Regions from separate parts of the Homo sapiens genome. Here regions 1 and 3 are each linked to region 2. Evidence: fine-mapped expression QTL. A gene starts in region 2. Each other region holds a variant in brackets. All regions are shown on one strand. Distances are from middle to middle. Region 1 has its middle 18 kb from the start of NTSR2. Region 2 holds the start of LINC01954 (long intergenic non-protein coding RNA 1954). Region 3 has its middle 6.9 kb from the start of KCNF1.

Evidence for each region.
Region 1: its variant is fine-mapped to the expression of LINC01954 in Th1 cells (Schmiedel 2018, PIP 0.95).
Region 3: its variant is fine-mapped to the expression of LINC01954 in atrial appendage (GTEx, PIP above 0.99). The same link has a PIP of 0.9 or more in left ventricle.

Annotation. Positions count from the first base shown.
Region 1 is chr2:11,683,726-11,691,904 of GRCh38, reverse strand. It overlaps a transcript of LPIN1 not described here. Among named protein-coding and RNA genes, the nearest start is that of NTSR2, 18 kb to the right of the region's middle. RefSeq lists an enhancer at 3,495-3,994. The variant G/A (reference allele first, on the strand shown) is at 3,462.
Region 2 is chr2:10,874,519-10,882,697 of GRCh38, reverse strand. LINC01954 (long intergenic non-protein coding RNA 1954) reads right to left here and starts at 4,431. Exons shown (of 2, transcript NR_110575.1): 1 at 4,254-4,431.
Region 3 is chr2:10,900,920-10,909,098 of GRCh38, reverse strand. No RefSeq gene overlaps it. Among named protein-coding and RNA genes, the nearest start is that of KCNF1, 6.9 kb to the left of the region's middle. RefSeq lists enhancers at 1-120, 6,660-7,230. The variant C/A (reference allele first, on the strand shown) is at 4,371.

The DNA.
Region 1 (8,179 bases), 810 kb before region 2:
TCATGATGCTCTAAAGGATAGTTGGATAACCTGGGTTGGGTAATAGTGTATCAAGCACAGCATTTAGACATTCCTATTTCTAAGAAATATGGAAATCAACTTGGATGGAGGCTTCTCATGCCAGGCCACTGGCTCTATTCTTTCTTTCCTTCTTAGATATTTGATCAATATTGAAGTGGGAGAGAAAGCATGCTTGTGGCTCATGGTCAAGATGGTATAGTGAACTTGTATTTTGAATCACCCCCTCTGATCCAAGCCCACAGTATATCAATGGATAAGCAAATATGACATAGCCGGGCTCCAACAGCAGTCAGTGTGCAAGAACCAAAGACAGATTAGAAGTGTGCATGGTGAATGGAGCTGAAGCCACAGGCCCGGCACAGTCTCTGGCCTGGAAAGAGGTAATGGCTGGAGGTCAGCACCTGAGGAGGAAAGCATAGATGGGACACGGGAGCCAGGCTTCACACTGAAGGTAATCCTGGGAAGGGATTTCCTATGCTGGTGAAAAGAGGCTTAAACATGTCTGCAGCCCTACTGCTTAGGGCCAAGGCAATAGAGGGAAGTGACCCAACCTTTCAAGCAGGAAGGAAACCAAAGGCTGCTTCATTCAGAGCCCAGATTTCCCCATATCACTGTAAGACGGGAGCTTGGAAGTGCTGTTATAAGGCCTGGCTCTGGACTGTGCCCCCGGACCTGGGGAGGCAACTACAAACCACAGGACTGAGGGTGGACCCTCAAATCACCCAGCCTTGTTGCTAGAGAACAAAGGACTAGGAGTTGGTGTGAGGGGTATTAAAGGAGAGAGAAAAAAAAAAAAAAACCACAACAAGATTTTTAAATCCACTCAAAATGAGCCCTCAAGCAAAATGTCTAATGCTAAGGACAGCACACAAAATAAATATTTGGAATATAGACTTACATCATGATGTATCCTATTTTCATTTAACAGTCATTATCAGGTTATTGAACAATCTGATAATGACTGTTAAATGAGAATAATTGAGATACATATAGACACAGATTAAGGAATAACCTCCATTAAAAAGAGAAATTATGAAACAGAAACATATCAAAAATTAAACAATGAAATAAAGGAAAAGAATCTATTAGAAATACTGGAAATGAAAAACATAGTCATTGAAATTAAAACATAAATATCAATATAGTAGATAAAACCTAACAGGAAACATAAAAGAGAGAATTAATGAAGTAAAATATAGTAAGGAAGCATCCAGCAGGCACAGCAAGTCAAAGAGATTAAGAAAGAAGTAAAACAGCAGCTAGGAGGCATGGAGGATACAGTGAGGTTCAAATTTGTGTCTAATCGTGCCAGAAAGGAGAATTAAGGAGATCACAAAGAAGAAGTTGTTGAAAAGATGTTTGAGAATCTTCCAAAATTGATGAACGAGTGATGAGTAAAAAAGCAGACTCTGAACACTAAGAAGAGTAAATAAAAATAAATCTACACCTACACATTACAGTGAAACACAGAGCACACATGGCAAAGGATAATATTTAAATGTCTCATGGAAGACTAATGCTTTTTTAAATATTGAGGGAAAGCAACTGTTGACCTATAATTTTATAATGAGCTAAACCACCATTCAAGAAAAGAAAGTGCAAAAAAAAATACATTTTCAGATAAACAAAAACTAAAGGAATTTGTCTTCCATAGACAGTCCCTAGAAGAACCATGAAATCATGAACTGAGACAAAAGGTTTGGGATGCAAAAAGTGTAGATAAAGATACAAGAGGTTGGACATATTATAATTAACATTTTTCTTTTTTTTACTGAAAACAATAACTGAAATTTTTAGGTTTTCTTTAAAACAAAAACTAAAACTCTGGACAAGACTAATAAAATAAGGGTGTACCCAATGGTTTTCAAAGTGAGCTGAGGCCTAGGCCCTGTTTGGCAGGAGTATAGAAGTAATAAATAAATTCAAACTGTGTTAGACAATATTTGTTATACAGGTATGTTTTCTTTTCTTTTCTTTTTGAGACAGAGTCTCACCCTGTCACCCAGACTGGAGTGCAATGGCACGATCTTGGCTCACTGCAACCTCCACCTCCCGGGTTCAAGAGATTCTCCCTCCTCAGCCTCCCAAGTAGCTGGGAATACAGGCACCCGCCACAACACTCAGCTATTTTTTTGTATTTTTAGTAGAGATGGGGTTTCGCCATGTTGGCCAGGCTGATCTTGAACTCCTGACCTCAGACAATCTGCCTGCCTCGGCCCAAAGTGCTGGGATTACAGGCATGAGCCCCCATGCCCAGCCTATAGGTATGTTTTCAAAAGCTAAGGAGAACCACTAAAAGAATATAATTTTGTTCTGTGATTATGGAATTAACTGAGCAAAAACAGAAAAGAGGATAGAAAAATTATATTTTAAAATTATAAATTCAACAGAAGTCAAGAAAAGAAAGCAAGTCAGTCAGATTTTTAAAAGTCACAAAATCAGTATGTTGGATAACAAAATCAAAATCTGAAAGGACCTCGTCAGGTCTAAAACCAACAAGATGATATTGAAGACAAATATACTAAGCCTCAAAAGTCCATTGTAGAACTTCCAGATGGCAAAGCCTTAGCCATCAGCAATTCATGCGAAAAAATCAGAATACTTTGAAACGACCAGGGCAGTTCATTAATCTCTCAAAGCTCCTCCATGTGTAAACTGAGGCTAAGAATCACCTGTGTGTTTCTTACAAGGATCGGTAGGACAAAATATGGAAAATGTCTCATAGGGCCCTGGCATGGAGAGAGAGCACTCGGTAAACAAAAACAATAATCAACCTGGACATTGTTCATTTTCGAAGCACTTCGAATTATCCATAAATTTGGAATAAGTCGTGTTTGCAAAATACCATTATACAAGTCGGCTGCTCAAATTCAGTGTTCAGCATAGAAGACTTGCTGTTCCTTTTCTTTGTATCTGGTGACCTCTCACCCAGTGGGCATTTCTAATTGGGTAGAAACTAGAACTTGATCCCGTCTTGCTTCACCATTAACTGCGAAGTGCCTATCAAATGGCTATTAATAACTCAATTTCTGCCTGGGTCAAATCAGGTGAAGAAACCGACTAGCCAAGTCCCTTTCTCCTTTATTTTGAACTGTTTTGAAACTCAAATCACCTTATCCTTAGATAAAGAGAATTCACTCAAGAATTTCAACAAAACTCTCTTATTATCGGCTGAAAATGTTGTATGTATTAACTCATTTTCCATTTGTCAACACTCCCCTGTGGCGAGGGGCCCTGATTCGCGCCGGTGCGTCCTGTCCCGGGTCTCAGCGTGACAGCGCCCTCTAGAGGGTATTTCTGGGCCAGGACACCGGGACCCGAGCGACCGCAAGATGTTTCTGCGAAGGGCTGCACTTTTACGGGGTAAATGAGGAACAGGCGGGGCCTGAAAAATACAGCAGGGCGTGGAAACTGGATCCTCCCAGCCACTGCCATGCAGA[G/A]AGTCTCAGTCCTGAAGTCTGAAGACTGTTACTCCGTGCTGCTCTGAAAAGAATTCTAGCCTGCAACTCCAGAGTGGTAGCTCTGGGAGGTTACTTCCTCTAGGAGTTTCAAAGGATGTTGCAAGGAGCCCTGGGGTGACTGTGGGGAGAGGGAGGGTGGAGCTGGCAAGGAGGTGGCAGGGTTGATGTAGGAAAAAGAAAGGAAGCTTGAGAAGGGAGGGCTCCAAGCTCTCCGTCCTTTTATCTCCAGCAGTTGCTCCATTCTTATTCCATTTATAGACAGGGACCTGCAGATATTTTCAGCTATAACAAGAATTCCGCGTCGGAGAGTGAAGCATTGAGAACTATGGAGAGGCTCAACTCCCTGGGCCACCACTGACACTCAGAGTCCCTCCAGGCAGAATTAACAAAGAGGACCTCTGGGTGGACAAATTTCAACAAGGTGCCCTTTCCCCTTCAATGTCCCAGCCAGCTTCAGTCCCAGAGCCCGGAGGGCGTGATGAGTCAAGCACAGGTTGGGTTTCAGCCCCCGGTGTCCTCTCGGCCAGCACACCATGCAGACCATAAACTGCAGAGACTTAGCTGCGGCCCTGCCATGGCCTCATTTAATAAAAGTGCATGTCACAAGCCACCCACCTGATAAGGCTGGTCTCCAATGCTGCCTCCCCCGTGAGTGTTGGTGAGCTTGGCTACTTTTGAGGGCACCCCTGTGCTTGCAGCATCCACACAGGGTCTCACGCAGTCTATGGACAGCCCTATGGGGAAGGTGTCATTGCTACAAATGTATTGCAGGCCTGGTCAAAACCACTTGGTCAGGGATAGAGCCAGATTCTCTGAACTGTTCAGATTCTCTGTATTTCTCTCCTACTAAATGCAATTCTCCCCTCTACAGAGTCTCATTCTCTTCATCCTAGTAATAACAAACTCTTCCCAAGTTCAGAGACAAAGCCCCCTGTCCCTGCCTTGCTGTCCATGCTATAGGAGATATCACATCCGCCTGCCCCTCCCTGAGCCCAGCCGCAGAGCAACTTACAAGAGTCTCACAGTCGTATTTATTTCAAACTTTCAGTATTATTTTCTTATATACTTTATCAAGGCCTAGAAGGATCTCAAGAAGCATGATGAAAAACAAAACTGGGTAATAGAATTGTTTAAAAACAGATCAGGATCAGGACCAGGCCCAGTGGCTCACGCACTTTGGGATGATCACTTGAAGACGGTAGTTCAAGACCAGCCTGGACAACAGAGCAAGATCCCATTTCTACAAAAAAATTAAAACTTAGCTGGGCATGATGGTGTGTACCTGTTGTCCCAGCTACTTAAGAGGCTGAGGTGGGAGGACCACTTGAGCCCAGGAATTCGAGGCTGCAGTGAGCTGTGATCACGCTGCACTCCAGCCTCAGCAACGCACCAAGACCTCATCTCAAAAAAAAAAAAAAAAAAAAAAAAAGGATCAAAAGCTATGACATGGAGCAGGATTCAGAATGCTGGGAGGGAGTGGAGAGAATGATTCCTGAAATCTAGACCACAGATAATCCTGCCTTTGAGCACCAAACAAAACTCTGCCCCCAGCAGCTGGGGCAGAAGAGGAAAGGTGAGTGCCTGGGCTCTACTTACCCACAAAAGGACCCATATCGATTAATCACTAATGGACACACATTCCAACTGCAAACACTGTGAGGGGCGTATTCATGGGTCCTCACATAGGAGTGATGAGAGCAGAAGGTGAGCGTCAGACCCCCTCGGAACACAGCCACAGGCATCTCGTTGCTCGCTCGCATGAGAAGGAGAGTGCTCTTTCCCGCGGGTGTGTGCTCTGCCCGTGGTGCCCAGGCCATGGCTACCCACCCTGTTCCTGTCCCTTTAAACGAGGACAACCCATCCACAAAAGTCACCACACAACCTCTGTCCAGGGCCAATACACACAGGCCTCAGGTGTGCCAGACCCTCCAGCACCGTCCTTCCCCACCAGCCTCCATCTTTCCCGGAGTCCGTCCAACCCAGCGTTCTAGCCCTCCTCTCCTGTTTCACCCTGGGGGCTAACTACAGAGCACCTCTTGATTGCTCTTGGGCCCACCCACTTTCTGGTTCCCCCTTCTCCAGGCACATCCCACCCACGCTGGGCAGGGCTTTCTCAAAGGGACAGCCCAGGGGCTGTGGGTGATCACATGATAAGTGCCAAAAGCGGGGTCGGGGATCCTCAGCACATTGATGAAGCCCAGAACAGGCCAAAGCTCACCAAAGACCTAGGCACGCTCACCTGGTCATTTCATTCCTGCATCTGTTTCTTCAGCAAGTTCCAGGCGCTTGCTGTGTGCCAGTGGCCCATCCCAACATAACCACAATGGAAAGTAGGGGCCAAATTCTAAAAGCGAGCTGCTGTGTGGTTGAGAATGTAGGTATCCCACCAGCTGGGGGGTTTCCAGGCGGCTGGAGAAGGCTGCACTTACACAAGGCCTGGAAGGGTCACTGGACATTGGTGGTGGCAATCTGTCTCCCAGGATGTCCAAGTGCTCTATCAATTGAATGCAACCCCAAAAGAAGAAATGGGGTTGGATAAGCAGAGGCACGGGGAGAATGTGAAGGGCTGAGAAAAGAGAAACAGAGGGAAATCTCTGGAACGAGAAACAAGACCAAGTGTATTCCAAATCTAAATGCAAAGGGAAGTTCAAAATGGTACCTGAGTTTACACACATTCCTCGATGGGAAATCAGGAAGTGACTGTTAGTCTTAGCTCTGCCATAGGCATGCCTAGAAAAGACACCTGCTACCCTCTGGGGGGACTCGGTAACCCGTCTCTAAAACAAAAGGATGCACCAGATCTGGAGTTTTTAAACTCTGTATTTCAGGGACTGAAGTTGTATCTCCAGCCTAGATTTCTCATCTGAATTCTGTTAAAAGGTAAACTGAGGCACAATAAAATTCTAAAGAGTTTATTCGAGTAAATGGTTCAAAACCCTTCTCTGCTACCACCTAGTTCAAACCACCATCCCCTCCCACTTGGATTATTGCAACAGCCTCCCAACAGGTCCATCATGTCTGCCCTGCCCCGAAAGCCCAGGAGGTGGGTCCCCTTAACATGACACCCCAAGGTGGGGTCGAGGCCAATGCCTCCATGCTGGCCTGTGCTCCGCCAGCCTCCACACCGCTCTCACACCATCTCCTCCCACTTTTCCCGTCCTCTCAGCTCTGGCCACACTGGCCTCTTGGCATTCCTCAAACCTGCCAAGATGCTTCAGCTTCAGGACCCTTGACACCTCCTGAGGCCTCCGCTCACTCCTCAGCTCCTTCAAGTCTTTGCTCACATGTCACCTTCTCTGTGACCTCCCCAACCTCCCCATTGAAAATTACGTCATCCTCCCGTCTCGGGCTCCCCGTTGCCTTTCCCCATTTTCTTTTTCTCCACAACCCCTCTCCCCATCTGACATGCATGTTACTTAGACACTTGCTTATTCTTTTCTCCCCCACCTGGACTGTAAGCTCCAGGAGGGCAGGATGTTTGTTTTATTCACGGCTCATTTCCAGTGCTTAGAAGAGTGCCGGCCACAGTGTCGCCTAGTGAATATTTATTACTAGAATAAGCAAATGAGTGAAAAGACAATAATCTTTTACAATTTTCATTTCAGGGAGCATGCGTGGTAACTGACATAAGGTTGTCAACTTTTAATCTTAAAAAATGAAAAACAATGGAAGGAAGGGAGGGAGGGAGGGAGGGATGGAAGGAAAGTATTTTTCTTTTCATAAAAGATACTTTAACCTCCCCAAAATAGAAAATGCCTTCTCCCAGGATAAATAATAGTCTTTCCCAGGGAATTTGAATGGGCCAAGTCACATGAACATATCTACCCCACAACATTGTCTTATTTTCTTTGTTCACCACGGGTCAGTGAAAACTTTGGCACCAATACTCCATGCCAACCACCCTCCAGCTCTGTGTTACTCTGGTTCTTCCTTCAAAAACAAGAGAGTTGGGCACAGTGGCTCATGCCTGTAATTCCAGAACTATGAGAGGCCAAAGCAGGAGGATCATTTGAGGCTAGGAGTTCAAGATCAGTTTGGGCAACATAGAGAAACCTTGTTTTTACAAAAACTTTAAAAAAAAATTAGCTGGTTGCAGTGGCACACACCTGTAGTCCCAGCTACCTGGGAGGATGAGGTGGGAGGATTGGTTGAGCCCAGGAGACAAGAGAGTCCATCACCCTGGCTGGCCCTTGCTCTAGCAGACACACCTGCTTACTACGTCAGAAGCAGCCTTGGCACTGGGAAGGGTGGGGGCTCCAGCTCCAGAAGCCAGCCCAGACCCAGAGCTGCCATTCGGATCACAAGAGACAGCGTGATACCTGCCAGAGGTTCACAGACTGTACAGTTCACACTGAATTTTCACTAAATGGATACTTTGCCTGGCAGCTTCTTCTAATCCACCTTTCATGCAGCTGCTATGAGAAAAGTAAGAAGACTCTTCCGAGCTCACCTCACTCACCCCCATGCTGGGCTGGTAAAGCAGCGTCATCAGCCCCAGTTTAAAGATGAAGAGCCCAGGGCTGGGAGAGGCTCAAGGCAACTTGGGCAAGGTCACAGCTCAGTTTAGAAGCAGCAGAGCCAGGATTCCAAGCCAGGGCACCTGGATGACAAAGCCTGGCTTTCACCACACCTGTCCCTTCCTCAGGTGCAGCAGGATGTTCACATAAACACCAGCCGTCCTGGAGGAACAGAGCGGC
Region 2 (8,179 bases):
GTCAAAAGCAGCTCTGTACCCTGCATTGCTGTGTTCCCATCTCAGCAATCCTGTGCATTATTTTGTTTTGGAAAGATCCAAAAACAAGAGAGAAATAAACTTCTATCACGCAGACAACCCAGGGAGGGAGTGATCTGTTATGAGGGAACTCAGTTTCTGCTAGGCCTTGTGTTCAAAGTTATATGCAGTTTCCAGCTTAGTTTTCCTAATGATGATGGAAGAGATGACAACTATTCCAGGTTTACAGAGAAGAAAAATAAGTTCAGAAAGGTGACATGATGACAGACTCCCAGGCCAGTGCTCCTGTTCCACAGCTGTTCCACAGCTGCCTTTTCTGATGGCTGTGAGTTGTGGGGTGAAAGTCCTGGGGAGGGGAGCGGTTCTCTAATTCCAGCTACTCGGGTGGCTGAGGCAGGAGAATCGCTTGAACCCAGGAGGTGGAGGTTGCGGTGAGCGGAGATCGCACCACTGCACTCCAGCCTGGGCAACAAGAGCGAAACTCAGTCTCAAAAAAAAAAAAAAAAAAAAAAGTTAAGATCCATAAGATCCAGCCATTCTACTCCTAGAGGAAAAAATATAGATGTCCATGTCAGGGAGGGGAACAACACACACTGGGCCTGTTGTGGGGGCAGGAGGAGGGAGAGCCTTAGGACAAATAGCTAATGCATGCGGGTCTTAAAACCTAGATGACGGGTTGATAGGTGCAGCAAACCACCATGGCACATGTTTACCTGTGTAACAAACCTGCACATCCTGCACATGTATCCTGGAACTTAAAATTAAATTAAATTAAATGTTAACAATGTATAGATAGATGTCCATGTAAAGACTTCTGCATAGATGTTCAGAAGAGCTGTATTTGTAATAGACCCAAGTTGGAAACAGCCCAGATGTCCTTCAGCAGGTGAAAGAATGAACACACTGGCATATCCACACCAGGGAATACCACTCGGCAAGGAAAAAGAGGGAATGGCGGACACAGTCAACAACATGGATCACACTCAGAGGTATAATCTAAGTGAAAGAGGTCAGATACAAAAGGCTGTTGTATGATTGCCTTTATGTGCCACTCAGAAAAAGGCAAAACCATTAAGGACAGAAATCTAAGCCACTGTTGCCAGGAGCTGGGGATGGGAAGAGTGATTGAGTTCAAACGGGATGAGAGTGATCGCTTGGGGGTGATGAAAATATTCTGTCTGGATTGTGGATTGTGGTGGTGTTGACACAACTCTATACATTTTGCAAATCTTACAAAACTGTCCAACTAAACTTCACAGTATGCAAATTACACCTCAACAAACCTGACTTTAAAATTTTTTAAGTATTATCATTACCATATTCAGTGATGGTTTCCTCCTTTTTTTTTTTTTTAGCAAAAGCTTATCACTAAAATGAGAGAAAAAGAGCACTATATATACCAATTTCTGCTGATTAATCCATGACTAAATGCCATATTTTTGTATGGAGGGCTATAAATAAAGATTTCTATCACACACACGGTGCATGCGTGCACTGTACCTGATGAGGAACTTTTAGAGCCCCTGCCTCTATGACAGTCGCTGGCACAGAATGGAGATGAGGAAAGTGGCTGTTATCATGCTCATGATGCTGTTTCTCATGCTCGTGTCACTCGCCACAGCCACAGACACATGCGGAAGGCCGGCAGGGCCAGTATTATCATTGCTTCTGTTTTATAAATGTGAAAATGAAGTGAAAGATCTTACCAAAGGTCACACGGCAGGTCCATGGCAAACCCTGAACTTGAATCCATGTCTTTATACCACAGACAAAGTCATACATTTCCATTCATCTTCTCTCCAAAAGCAAGGAAGTGAAAGCCAGGCGGGAGGCGGGGGTATGGACTTAATTGTAAGCCCTGTCGAGGGAAAAATTCATGGGCAGGAAGTAAGCTTGTTACAGACCGTGGTCTGTTCTGGGAGCTTCCGCAAACCAGCTCTGGCGAATCTGAAAAGGCCGCCCACTCCTTCGCACCGGGAGCCTGTGAGGTGGTGCGGGCCCAGATGTGACCAGGACACACTGGACGTTGCTCAGCGGTGGCCTCCACACCAGGTCATGAGGCAGACAGAGTTCCTGGGAGTTTGACATCCTGGACCCAACCCGGCCCAACCCACACTGGCTGCATTTTGAAGCCACCAGGCAGCCCCTGGGCCCAGGACGGCCTGGGAAGGGAGGGCTTGATGAACAGGTCCCCACCCTCCTCCCTCCTGTGTCCCCGTTCTGCGGCCGCCTCCTTTGCCAGGGCCCCAGGTGGCGCCGGACTCCCCTTCCTGCCCTAGAGGCCTCCTCTACGGCCCTGTCCCCATGGGGAGCTCCATCCTGTTCACCACAGGAAGCATTTCCCAAAGGGAGCTGCTCCAGCCACCAGGTCTGAGGGATGGTGGGTGGGGCGGGTGGGGAGGGGGCATTTTCAGAAAGAGTTCTGAGGAAAAAAATGACTTCTGTGGGAAATTCCAGGTTGAAGCGTCATGGGTTGAATCGTGCCCCCTCCGAAAGCTTTGTTGAGATTCTAACCCCCAGTGTTACCACTAGAGGGTCGTGACGGCAAGCTGTCCAGGTTCTTGGCTTTTTGAACGAAGAATTGGACAAAACGCCCAGCAAAGCAAAGAAAGAATGAAACAACAAGAGAACGAAAGGAGGGATTTATTGAAAATGAAAGTACACTCCACAGTGTGAGAGTGGACTGAGCAGCAGCTCAAGAGCCCAGATCTGGAATCTTCTAGGGTCCAAATACTCTCTACACGTTTCCCATTGGCCACTTGGTGATCATATTATGTAAATGAAGTGCTGGCCCACAATTGGTTGCTTTCTGCAACCAATCAGAAGCTGAAATGAAGTTACCAAGATCACGCTCCTGTGCAAACATCTGATTGGCTGCAAAAAGCAACCAATCAGAGGCTAAGATGAAGTTGCAAAGTTGCATTTCTATGCAAAGGAAGACTCAGCGGCCCGGCAATCAGTCTGACTGGTTGCGGAAAACCAATTTCCCATCTGTGGTGCAGAAAAGGTGGGGGTTTTGCACAGGGAGTAGCCTCTGGTCCTTTTGTTACTTAGTCCTGGAAAGTTAGGTGTTTCCTTTCAATTCAGTTCTAGGAAGTCGGCTTGAAACGGCCTTAGGTTCCCCGCCTCCAAACCCTATTCTCCTGCCTCACCAGCACCTCAGAAGGTGACCTTCACTGGAAACAGGTTTGCTGAAGATGTGATTAGTTAAAATAAGATGTCCTGCTGCACTAGGGTGTGCCCTTAATCCAGTGTGACTGTGTCCTTAGGAGAGAGACACACAGAGACACATGAGGACAGAAGCAAGCCTGAGGTGCCACGGATGCCACAGACGTCACAGACGCCATGGACTGTCAGCCACCAGCAGCTGGAGGAGCAGGAAGGACCCTCCCTAGGCCTCCAGATGGGGCACGGCCCTGCCGATTCCTGGATCTCAGACTTCCGGCCTCCAGAACTGTGAGAGAATCGATGTCTGTTGCTCAAGCCCCAGCGTGGTGCTTTCTTACAGCAGCCCCAGGACACTGGGACACTGGGACACTCACACACACAACGTCCATAACCATTTTACTTTTCAGAGACTTGAACAAGCTAACCTGCAAGAAGTTCCAAGAAGGAGGAGGCAATCACCCCCTTGTCTCCATTTATTTTACCACAAACCTTTTTCCTCAAAAAAACTCAGTGTGCCATGAAACGTACTTTGAGAAGTGGGGGTCTTTGGCATGCATCTGTGGTACCCCAGGAAGGTGACATAGAAGGAGGGGCCAGGCAGGGACCACAGAGTCTGGGTGCCCCTCCAGAGAGGGTGTCTCACCAAGCCACAGGCCAACACCAGGCCCCGCAGAGACCCCTGCTCGTGCTCAGTGAATGAGTGGGCACCCCGACTAACAGGAATTTCATCCTATTGACAGACAACCGACCCTCTGCCTCTGGACCAGTGTAGGGGTTCACCCCAAAGGGAGGCCCCACCAGACATTTGCTCGCCTCCCTGGCCTCAACTCCCAGGCCTCCCCAGCCCCTTGCCCACCCCAGGCTTCCGTGACACCAAGCTGCCACATGCCTTGCCTTCTCTGCTCTGGGCCTTCTCACACATTGTTCCTGCTGTCTAGAATGACCCCCTACTCTCACTCCAATTCCACCTTTTGTCTGCTGACTGGATCGCCACTCATTCATGAAGGCCAAGTTCAGGGACTATGGACGCCCCTCTCAGGCCACACCTCCCCACCCTCTGCCAGCACCTTCCACAGTGAGGGCCCTGACAGCTCCTCCACCCTGGTGTCCAGGCAGCTTCTCGCAGTGAAGAGAAGATGAACTTCAACATGGCGGTAGCAGTTCACGCTGACCTTCTCCCTTGGCCTTGGGCAACTTGCTTTGCCTCTTCAAATTTCTGTTTTCTCATCGATAAACATTATCTATGAGCCAGATGTTTGTGAAAATAAAATAGCGTATTACTGATAGGTGCTGGACATCTAGTCGGTGTAAATAAAATTGCGTTGTTATACTGTTGGTAACATAGGATTTGTCCGGGGGCAGCTGGACCGGGAGCTCCTTGAGGACAGAGGCGGTGGGTGTGCCGCTCCTCTCTGCAGCCGAGCCCCCAGTCCTCCCAGAGTGAATGTTTGCTGACTGCACGAGGGAGCCATCCCCTTGGAGGCTCAGCAGGGTGTGGGCTGTGTTGTCAGCCCTTCCTCCTCCTGTTCACAGCCTTCCCTTAATGACTCAGGAGCACTCCCGGCAGCATCCCCTCTTACAACACACTGCCTTGCTCCAGGGTTGGCGATGGGATCGTTCCCCCCAGTTCCTAGAGCCTAACAGCACCTAGAGCACTGTGATTCTGCGTCTGATTCTGAGTCGTGGGGACATGAGCATCAGGGGTCTCCCCCAAGCACTCCATTTAACATTCACCCCCACGCTGGCACCATCAGCCGAGCAGATAGCATTTCCTGTCTCAGAACGTTCTTGTCATTTGTTTAAGCAAGTTGAAAACTGCTGCACCAGATCCCACTGAAAGGAAGTACTCAGAAGTCAGGTGGGTTGGGAAGTCGGGGAAGAAGGTCCCTCCCTTTACATGTCGTAATTTTTTCTGTTTTCTAAATTTATTTATACTGGATGTTCTAACATGCTGATAAAAGCCATCTACAAAAACATGCATTCATTAAACAGATATTGGGTACCTTCTATTCACCAAGCTCTGTAATGGGGTAATGGAGTCAAAATTAAAATTAAAAATTCCTACCCTTAATAAATATATTGATTAAGGTACACATTAAATGGCTAGAACAAAAAACGCCCCTACAGACAATGACCCAAACACTATAAGAGTTTGTTTTTCTCTTTTGTAACAGTCCCAAGGTGACTTCCACTCCACAAGGGCATTCCAGGAATCAGCTTCCTTCTATCTTTTTTTTCTTGCTGAGGTATAACTTACATGCAATAGGCACATAAATCTTAAAAGAATAGCTCAATCAATTTTTATGTGTGTATACACCTGTGTAACCACCACCCAAGTCAAAGTACAGAACTTTTCCAGCACTCAGGCTAGGCATGGTGAGTCACGTCTATAATCCCAGCACCTTGGGAGACCCAGGTAAGAGAATCACTTGAGGTCAGGAATTCAAGAATGGCCCGGGAAATCTAGTGAGACCCTGTCCCTATAAAACATAGAAAAAATTAGCTGGGCATGGTGGCTTTCACCTATAGTCCCAGCTACTGTGGAGGCTGAGGCAGGAGAATCACTTGAGCCCACGATGTTGAGGCTGCAGTGAGCTATGATTGTGCTACTGCACTCCAGTCTAGGCTACAGAAGAAGACCTTGTCTCAAAAAAAAAAAAAAAGAAAAGAAAAGAAAAGAAAAAGAATGCTTCCAACATTCAAGTTCCTCCTGTCTTATTGCTTTGTAATACCCTATGGTGTTATCTTCATTCCACAACAAAAACTCACTCATTTTATCACCTCTACATTTCAACCCACAGGAAAGAGAGAGAAAAAGGAGGAAGGCATGTAATTTCCTAATTTAAAAAACAAACGGTGATCTGGAAGTTGCAGAGATTGCTTCTGTCACACTCTATTAGCTAATTCTTAGTCTTATGACTATACGAGCTATAAGCATAGCTGGGGAAAATTGCCTCTAGTTGGGCAACCACATAAGCCAAATAAATTCTTGAGTTTTTATTACAAAGAGGAAGTAGGTGTTATTTCCATTTTATAGATGAAGAATCTGAAGATCGGAGAGATGAAGTGGTTTGCTTTAGCTGAACTGAATTATACACCAAAGTTTGTCTGATCCCAGAGTTAGTTTCCTAACACTTGTCTTTAAATTAACAGAAAGGCCAGGCATGGTGGCTCACACCTGTAATCCCAGCACTTTGGGAGGCCGAGACAGGCAGATCACCTGAAGTCAGGAGTTCAAAACCAGCCTGGCTAACATGGTGAAACCCTGTCTCCACTAAAAATGCAAAATTAGCTGGGCATGGTGGCACGTGCCTGTAATCCCAGCTACTTGGGAGGGTGAGGCAGGAGAATCACTTGAACCCAGCAGGCTGAGGTTGCAGTGAGCCAAGATTGTGCCACTGCACTCCAGCCTGGACAATAGAGCCAAACTCCATCTCAAAATAAATAAATAAAGGCCAGGCGTGGTGGCTCACGCCTGTAATCCCAGCACTTTGGGAGGCTGAGGTGGGTGGACCACCTAAGGTCGGGAGTTCGAGGCCAGCCTGACCAACATAGAGAAACCCCATCTCTACTAAAAATACAAAAATTAACCAGGCATGGTGATGCATGCCTGTAATCCCAGCTACTCAGGAGGCTGAGGCAGAAGAATTGCTTGAACCCAGAAGGCAGAGGTTGTGGTGACCCGAGATCGTGCCATTGCACTCCAGCCTAGGCAACAATTGCGAAACTCCATCTCAAAAAATAATTAATTAATTAATTAACAGAAAGTTTCAGTTGAGACACCTATATCTAAGAATACTTAAGCCATTAGCATAGACATAATAGCCTTACGTTCTGTAGCAGAGCAATTCAGAAACAATTGAAGTTTGTATAAAAATTTCTGTTAAGTTTCGACTTCCAGTATGGTGACATGAGTAGCTCCTGGACCTGCTCCCCAGTGAAACTGGTGAACATTATTTTTTTAAGAAACCAACAATTTAAATTCTCTGGTAATAGTCCCAAGGGCATGAGTAAATGAAACATTTACTCAAGAAAATCTGCAAGAACTCAGTAAGAAGAGTGAAAATTTGTGGTATTTGAACCACGACTTACTCTCTCCTCCCCTAGTTCCACCTCAGAGTGACTGAAATTCCACTCCAGACAGGTGCAGCCAAGAACACAGAGCTCTGTCTGGCTCACCCACCCGCAACACACAGCTCTTAGTTGGAGAGCTATGGTGTCTTCCTGCTTGCCTGGAAGGAACAAGATGTCAGCATTTCTCATTCTGCCCCCAATCCCTTGCGGCAGAGGCAAAGCTCTGGGCCAGTACAGCTGAAAGGAGGAGGCTTCCTCCAAGCTGAGGCAATGCCAAACACAATGGAGGCTGTGGTGAAAAGCAATTAGGAGAAGACTAGTAGATTCATTAAAGATATAAGCTAAGCCATAGGTTGGCTAGTTTTCCAGCAAGAACCAGGAAAAGAAGCAGATAAAAAGATCTCTCCTAGAGTAAGAACAAATCTGAAACACTGACCTTAAAAACTATCCCTCAGAGGCCGGGTGTGGTGGCTCATGCCTGTAATCCTAGCACTTTGGGAGGACGAGGTGGGCAGATCATCTGAGGTCAGGAGTTTGAGACTAGCTGGGCCAACATAGTAAAATCCCGTCTCTACCAAAAATACAAAAATTAGCCAGGCATGGTGGCTTATGCCTGTAATCCCAGCTACTCGGGAGGCTGAAGCAGGAGAATTCACTGGAACCCAAGAGGCAGAAGCTATAGTGAGCCGAGATCGCGCCACTGCACTCCAGCCTGGATGACAGAGCAAGACTCCGTCTCAAAGAAAACACAAACAACAACAAAAAGCTATCCCTCAGAGAGGTTACACCCTATCAGTCTTTGTGTGCCACCATCCCCCTCTTTCTCGGTGCTACCTAGAGTGGTGGCAGCCATCTCTTACTCGGCATCATGGCCACCCTCAGACCCCTTGTGAAACTCAAGATCATAAAAAAGAGGACC
Region 3 (8,179 bases), 26 kb before region 2:
ACAAGCTGGAGACTCAGGCCCCCGGAAGAGCCAGTGCGTGAGCTGAGCCTGGAGGTCTGAGTGCCACCTGCCTGCTCAGCTGAAAGGGCCACACGGTTTGGAGGTGAGGCTGGCAGGCCTGAGGCTGGTGGAGTCAGCTGGAAACAGACCCCGGAGGGTCTCAGCGGCCCTGGAGGCATCTGGACCACAAGTCAGCACTTCATACTTTAGGTCGTGGCTCAGTAGCTGGCTGTGAAATTAACGTATTGAGTATTAGAAAATAACAGAGAATATCAGACGTGGAAAAATAAATACGGCTTGAATCAGGTCATAGCAGCCAGAGGCTGACTCTGACTCCAAGTCCATTCAGCAAATCCCAGGCCCAGTGGGGAGAAAGCTGGTCTGGTGCAGAAGTGGGAGGGGAGGGGCAGCAGATGCAAAGCCCAGCAGAGAGAATGTCCGCACACAGCCCACAGGAGAGCAAGTGCCCAATGACAACAGGGGCAAGAGAAAGAAACAGCTGTAAATAGCAGGTCAAGGCTGGAGGTGCGAGACCAGCCTGCAGCCAGAAGCCAGGGGAGGGAAGAGAAGAGGCAGAGACACAAATCCTGCTCTGTGAGGATCAGCCCTGTATCCTTAGATGGGGGAGCAGAAGGCTGGCATTCATGTGCCCCTCAGTTTCCCGGGCTGTTAAATGGGTGACATGGACTTACATATTCACACGTTGTCATTTGTTGAATAGCATAGTGAACAGAGAGGCTACAGGTGGAGGCCTTGCCAAGCTCTGACACTTACTGGTGGTATGAGGCTGTGGGTTCAACTGTGTCCTCTCAAAAGATATGCTCAAGCCTTAAACCCGGCCCCTGTGAATGTGACCTGATTTGGAAGTTGGGTCTTTGCAGATGTAAGTGAAGATGAGATCACCCTGGAGTAGGGTGGGCCCTAAATCCAATCACTGGTGTCCTTGTAAGAAGAGACACAGATACACAGGGGGAACACCACGTGGCAACACAGGCAGAGGTTGGAGTGATGCTGCCACAAGCCATGGTACAGCAGGGACTGCCGGCAGCCACCAGAAGATGGGAGAGACGCATGGAGCCCTCTGAGTCCCCAAGAGGGAACCAACCCTGACGACACCTGGATTTTGGACTCTGGTCCCCAGAACTGTGAGAGCATAAATTTCTGTTGTTTTAAAACCACCCCAGTTTGTGGTATTCTGTTACGACAGTCTTAAGATACTAACACATGTGGCCTTAGGCAAGCTGTAACTTTTTTTTTTTTTTTTGAGTTGGAGTCTCTTTCTGTCGTCCAGGCTGGAGCGCAGTGGTGTGACCTCGGCTCACTGCAATCCCCGCCTCCTGGGTTCAAGCAATTCACCTGCCTCCGCCTCCTGAGTAGCTGGGATTACAGGCATGCGCCACCATGCCTGGCTAATTTTTGTATTTTTAGTAGAGATGAGGTTGCACCATATTGGCCAGGATAGTCTCATCTCCTGACCTCGTGATCCACCCACCTCGGCCTCCAAAAGTGCTGGGATTACAGGCGTGAGCCACCACCTCGACCTCCAGAAATGCTGGGATTACAGGTGTGAACCACCACGCCGGGCCGGCAAGCTGTAACTTCTTTAAGCCTCCAATTTTTCATCTGTGGAATAAGGAGACTGCCACAGTACACGGTGATGGGGCTACAGAATACAGTGGGGACTCAGTGCTAGAACAGGTGGGGACTTGGTGCTGGAACAGGTGGGGAGCAAGTGCTGGGACAGATAGGAACCAGATGCTGGGACAGGTGGGGGCCAAGTGCTAGGAGAGGTGGGGGCCCAGTGCTGAGACAAGCGGGGACCAGGTGCTGGGACAGGTGGTGACCAGGTGCTGGGATAGGTGGAGAGCAGGTGGGGACCAGCTGCTAGGAGATGTATGAGCCAAGTGCAAGGGCTACCCTGGAAAAGGGAGGCTCTGAATCAGCGTGGGGCCTAGGGGAAAGCTCACAGAGAAGGTGCATGCACCCGTCTTTTGAACCGGCAGGGGTGGTTCTTACTGCATTCCAGGCTCTGTTCTGGGCGCTGAGAACAGAGCAGAGATGAGATGGACGAAGGTGCTACATCTGCAGAGCTAGAGGATTTGTGTGGAGACCTCAAAGCAGTGCCAATTGTGAAAGATGACTGCTAGGCCAGTGACTGAAGGGACATCTGGGAGCCTCCAAGGGGACATCTGGGAGGCCTGGCTGTCCAGGGAGGTCCAGCCTGTCCAGTGGAGCTCTCAGAATGACTGAAGGGCTCCTTACCCACACTATCCAGTACAGTAGCCGCAGCTGCACATGGCTGCTGAGTGTTTGGCATGGGCCTAGTGCACCCGAGTAGCTGAATTTTTATTTCAATTATATTTGATTTTTAACAGCTTTGTTGAGATGCACTTCACATTCCATACGATTGATACACCAGTGGCTTTTAGTGTATTCAGAGCCGTGCAGCTATCAGCACTGGTTCATCTTAGAACATTTCATTACCCCCAAAATGAATGCCACACCTTTTAGCCATGACCCCCAACCTCCCCCTGCCCTAGACACCCACTAGAATACTTTTTGTCTATGAATGTGCCTATTCTAGGAATATCATGTAAATGAAATTCTATAATATATGACTTTTTGTGACTGGTATCTTTCACTTACAACTTACCATGGATTTTTTGTTTGTTTGTTTGTTTGTTGTTGTTTTTGAGACAGAGTCTCACTCTGTTGCCCAGGCTGGAGTGCAGTGGCACAATCTTGGCTCACTGCAACCTCCGCCTCCTGGTTCAAGCGATTCTCCTGCCTCCCTAGTAGCTGGGATTACAGGTACACGCCACCACATCCAGCTACTTTTTGTATTTTTAGTAGAGATGCGGTTTCACGATGTTGACCAGGTTGGTCTCAAACTCCTGACCTCAGGTGATCCACCCATCTCAGCCTCCCAAAGCGCTGGGCTTACAGGCGTGAGCCACCGCGCCTGGCCACTTAACGTTTTTAACGTTCATCGGTGCATGGCATGTGTCAGTACTTCATCCCTTTTTATGGCTGATCATATCCGTTGCATGGATAAGCCAAATTGTGGTGATAATCCCCTGTGGTCAGTGGCTGCCATGTTGGGCAGATGGAGTCTGGGGAAGCTGAGCCAGGTCAGGTGGGCGTGGGCAGTGAGGAGTAGGGCCAGGCCTCCCAGGCAGACAAGGCAGTAGCATAGACAGAGGCAGGAAAGTCCCCACCAGGGTTCCAGGCCCCGCACTGCACTGGTCTCTGCATGCTCCACGCTAACTGTGCCCTCTACTGCAGTGCTGCCCTCACCCGTCCCTGGGGTCATTCTTTCCACCCTTTCAAAGCTCAGTCCTCAGTGTCACCACTTCCAGGAGGTCTCCAGGGACTGCACCCCTCTCCAGCCCTCCTTTCCCCAAGGGATCAGGGCCCATTCCCTATGTGCTCACAGAGCCCTCAGCTGTCCTATGGCACAGGGTCAGTTCATGCACCACTGGTTTGTCTGCCCCCAACTCCAGCCCCAGTACAATCTGGATTATTCTTCTCTGTGACGGTGCCCAGCATCGGGCCTGGACATGCAGGTGCTAGGCAGGCATGTGGAGGGAAGGAATGAGAAAATGCTTCATTATGCCCAAACAGAACCCACATAACTTTGAAACCACAGGACCTTCATGGTCTCTGATGAGCCTTAATTTGCTCAGCTGTCCCACAGAGCCAGGCTTCAGCAGTGTCTGGGGCGTGGCGGTGAGAAAGACATGGTCCCCTGGGCATGCCCCAGACTTGTGGGCAGACTGATGGGAGGTGAAAAGCACCTGGGAACTGAGCAGGGCTGGGCCGTGGCTAGAGAGATTTTTGGGGGTCAGAGGATGGTCTTCCTTCCACGGTCAGGACACAGGCATTTTCCCTTTACCCCTGCATGCTGCACACCCCACCTCCTCATCAAACCCTGGCAAGTCCACATTCTGGTCTACTGACATGCCCAGGCCCAGAGTGCCCCACACCTGGAATCCCACAAACTCCACTTGTCCTCCCAGGCCAGAGCAAACGGAGCCTGCAGATCAGGTTGGCTGACTCCTTGCCCAGTGCTCTCCCCAAGCCTGTACTACTGCCTCTGTTATGGACTGAATGTTTTTGTACCACCCCCTCCAAATTCGTACGTGGACGCCCTAACCCCCAATGTGATGCTATTTGGAGATGGGGCCTTTAATGAGATAATGAAGGTTAAATGAAGCCATAAAGTTGGGGCCCCAGCCCAACAAGATTAGTGGCCTTAGAAGAAGAAGGTAGAGAGACCTTGCTCTCTGTCTTCACCACGTGAGGGTACATTGAGAAGGTGGCCATCTGCAAGCCAAAGAGAGAAGCCTCAAAGAAATGAAACCTGCCAG[C/A]ACCTTGATCTTGGACGATAAATGCCTATTGTTGAAGCCTGAGGTCTGTGGTGCTTTGTTACACGGCCCAAGCTGACTAGTACGTTCTCCTTCCCTCACACTTGCTAAGTGCCGCCTCTGCCTTCCTCTTCTCAAAGCTCTGGAAACAGGCCCTTTGTCCTCTGACCATATAGATCCTGTTTGGAAAGGCGAGGCTGGGATCCCATGGATTAGGAAAAAAAGAGAAAAATCAACATGCTGCTTTCTCACTGAAGGTCATTGTTGCATAGAAACTTGAGCCAGCAGCCTGGATCCATTTAGAATTTCCTGAAGGGTTAAACCAGAAAAAAAAAAAAAAAGTCTGAACTTTTTGGCTAAAAATGGAAAGCTTCTTGCTGTGATGTATTCAGTCCAGCATAGACCTTCTATGAGAATTATACATTTCATGATGCCATGGGGGAAGGGACGTAGAGCACAAAATCTATTAGACATAGAAGAAGCAGCAATTTTACCTTGCGGGTTTCTTATTTAAATAAAGGGTGGGGGAACAGTTTATTTAGGCATAATGGGAAGTAGTTGTTTGAGCTGCATTTTCTCATTAAAAATTTTTTTTATTTGTTGAACAATACCATTTTGGGCTACAGAATGCTAGATTTCTATGGCAGTAATTAAAACCAGTGCCTGTGTATCTAAGTGATTTGTCTAGACGGCAAATGATGCAAGCTGTAATCTATTCCTTTTTATGGGCTAATCAGTTCTGCTCAGTTAAAATTTCCTTGTGTTTTGCTGAATTGAATAATACCTTTCATTAAGATTCAGTTCCCTCTCCCTCTCCCTCTCCCTCCCCCTCCCCCTCTCCCTCTCCCTCTCCCTCTCCCCACGGTCTCCCTCTCCCTCTCTTTCCACGGTCTCCCTCTCATGCTGAGCCAAAGCTGTACTGTACTGCTGCCATCTCGGCTCACTGCAACCTCCCTGCCTGATTCTCCTGACTCAGCCTGCCCAGTGCCTGCGATTGCAGGCTCACGCCGCCACGCCTGACTGGTTTTGGTGGAGACGGGGATTCGCTGTGTTGGCCGGGCCGGTCTCCAGCCCCTAACCGCAAGTGATCCGCCAGCCTCGGCCTCCCGAGGTGCCGGGATTGCAGACGGAGTCTCCTTCACTCAGTGCTCAATGGTGCCCAGGCTGGAGTGCAGTGGCGTGATCTCGGCTCGCTACAACCTGCACCTCCCAGCCGCCTGCCTTGGCCTCCCAAAGTGCCGAGATTGCAGCCTCTGCCCGGCCGCCACCCCGTCTGGGAAGTGAGGAGCGTCTCTGCCTGGCCGCCCATCGTCTGGGTTGTGAGGAGCCCCTCTGCCCGGCCGCCCAGTCTGGGAAGTGAGGAGCCCCTCTGCCCGGCCGCCATCACGTCTGGGAAGTAAGGAGCATCTCAGCCCGGCTGCCCATCGTCTGGGATGTGAGGAGCGCCTCTGCCAGGCCGCCCAGTCTGGAAAGTGAGGAGCGTCTCCGCCTGGCCGCCATCCCACCTAGGAAGTGAGGAGCACCTCTTCCCGGCCGCCATCCCATCTAGGAAGTGAGGAGCGTCTCTGCCCGGTCGCCCATCGTCTGAGATGTGGGGAGCGCCTCTGCCCCGCCGCCCCGTCTGGGATGTGAGGAGCACCTCTGCCCGGCCGCCCCGTCTGAGAAGTGAGGAGCCCCTCCGCCCGGCAGCCGCCCCATCTGGGAAGTGAGGAGCGTCTGCGCCCGGCAGCCAGCCGTCCGGGAGGGAGGTGGGGGGGTCAGCCCCCCGCCCGGCCAGCCGCCCCGTCCGGGAGGGAGGTGGGGGGGTCAGCCCCCAGCCCGGCCAGCCGCCCCGTCCGGGAGGGAGGTGGGGGGGTCAGCCCCCCGCCCGGCCAGACGCCCCGTCCGGGAGGGAGGTGGGGGGGTCAGCCCCCCGCCCGGCCAGCCGCCCCGTCCGGGAGGGAGGTGGGGGGGTCAGCCCCCCGCCCGGCCAGCCGCCCCGTCCGGGAGGGAGGTGGGGGGGTCAGCCCCCCGCCCGGCCAGCCGCCCCGTCCGGGAGGGAGGTGGGGGGGTCAGCCCCCAGCCCGGCCAGCCGCCCCGACCGGGAGGGAGGTGGGGGGGTTAGCCCCCCGCCCGGCCAGCCCCCCCATCCGGGAGGGAGGTTGGGGGGTCAGCCCCCCGCCCGGCCAGCCGCCCCGTCCGGGAGGTGAGGGGCGCCTCTGCCCGGCCGCCCCTACTGGGAAGTGAGGAGCCCCTCTGCCCGGCCACCACCCCGTCTGGGAGGTGTACCCAACAGCTCATTGAGAACGGGCCAGGATGACAATGGCGGCTTTGTGGAATAGAAAGGGGGGAAAGGTGGGGAAAAGATTGAGAAATCGGATGGTTGCCGTGTCTGTGTAGAAAGAAGTAGACATGGGAGACTTTTCATTTTGTTCTGTACTAAGAAAACTTCTTCTGCCTTGGGATCCTGTTGATCTGTGACCTTACCCCCAACCCTGTGCTCTCTGAAACATGTGCTGTGTCCACTCAGGGTTAAATGGATTAAGGGCGGTGCAAGATGTGCTTTGTTAAACAGATGCTTGAAAGCAGCATGCTCGTTAAGAGTCATCACCACTCCCTAATCTCAAGTACCCAGGGACACAAACACTGCGGAAGGCCGCAGGGTCCTCTGCCTAGGAAAACCAGAGACCTTTGTTCACTTGTTTATCTGCTGACCTTCCCTCCACTATTGTCCTATGACCCTGCCAAATCCCCCTCTGTGAGAAACACCCAAGAATTATCAATAAAAAATAAATAAATAAAAAAAAAAGATTCAGTTCTGTACTCCATTGAAAATTTACATTTCATTTTTTGCTGTGTACCCATCGGTATCAGGGAGCTGCCCCGTCCCCACCCCCGCTCCTTCTCCTCATCATCCCCCTCCCCTCATCATCCCCCTTCCCCACCTCCACCAAGAAGAGCTGATTGACAGAAAGACCCAGCTGGTCTACTCCTGTCTGAATACCATGGCCCCTGGAAGTCAAGTGCATGAGGCAGCTGGGTGGGAGGCGGTGCTGGATGGAGGTGGGTAGAGAAGGATGTCAAACTGAATCATCAGGAAACTTCATTTTTTTCACCCCAGCTTCTAAGCATTTTTTTTCTTTTCTATGCCTCAATTTTTTCATCAGTAAAATGGAGCTAATGACTCTTTCCTTCCTGGCTATAAGATCTTATAGGAACAAATACATTATTGGGCATGAACAGCTTTGTAATCGACAAGCTGCTGAACCTGCCAAGGCCAAGAAGAGCAGGGGGAGGAGAGCGGGAGGGGTGACTTCCTTGTTCCCATTCCCGAGGTGGGCACGTTTCCTGAAGTCTGCTCGCCTCTGCCTCTGCTTCCCATGGCTTCTGTTCAGCCATGACTCATCCTGCCTGCAGGCAGGTGGGAGGACCGGGACAGGGTTGCCACACACCCCAGATGTGTAGAAAGATGTCAGAGGCTTTGGGCGCATTCAGCTGCCCCAGAGGCTGCGGGTAGGACCCCTCTGGGCCTGAGATCTGGGAAGAGAGAAAAGCAGTTAGGAAACAAGACCAAGAAGGATAAATGTTCCTGCCTGTGGCCTGCCAGGTTGGAGTAGTGGGGCGTGGGGCTGCTGTTGGCTTTTGTGCTTGCTTTTAAAGCACACTAGGAAAGTAAACAAAATGATTGAAGAAAACTCTTCAGAAACAAATCCTTTCCCATTTTCCTTTACTTTAATTGCAAAATTGTTATCTATTTATTGTAAAAAAAAAAAAATGTAATGTGAAAGGAAGGCTTTTATTTACATCCCTGACTTCCGTCTTGCCCAAAGGTC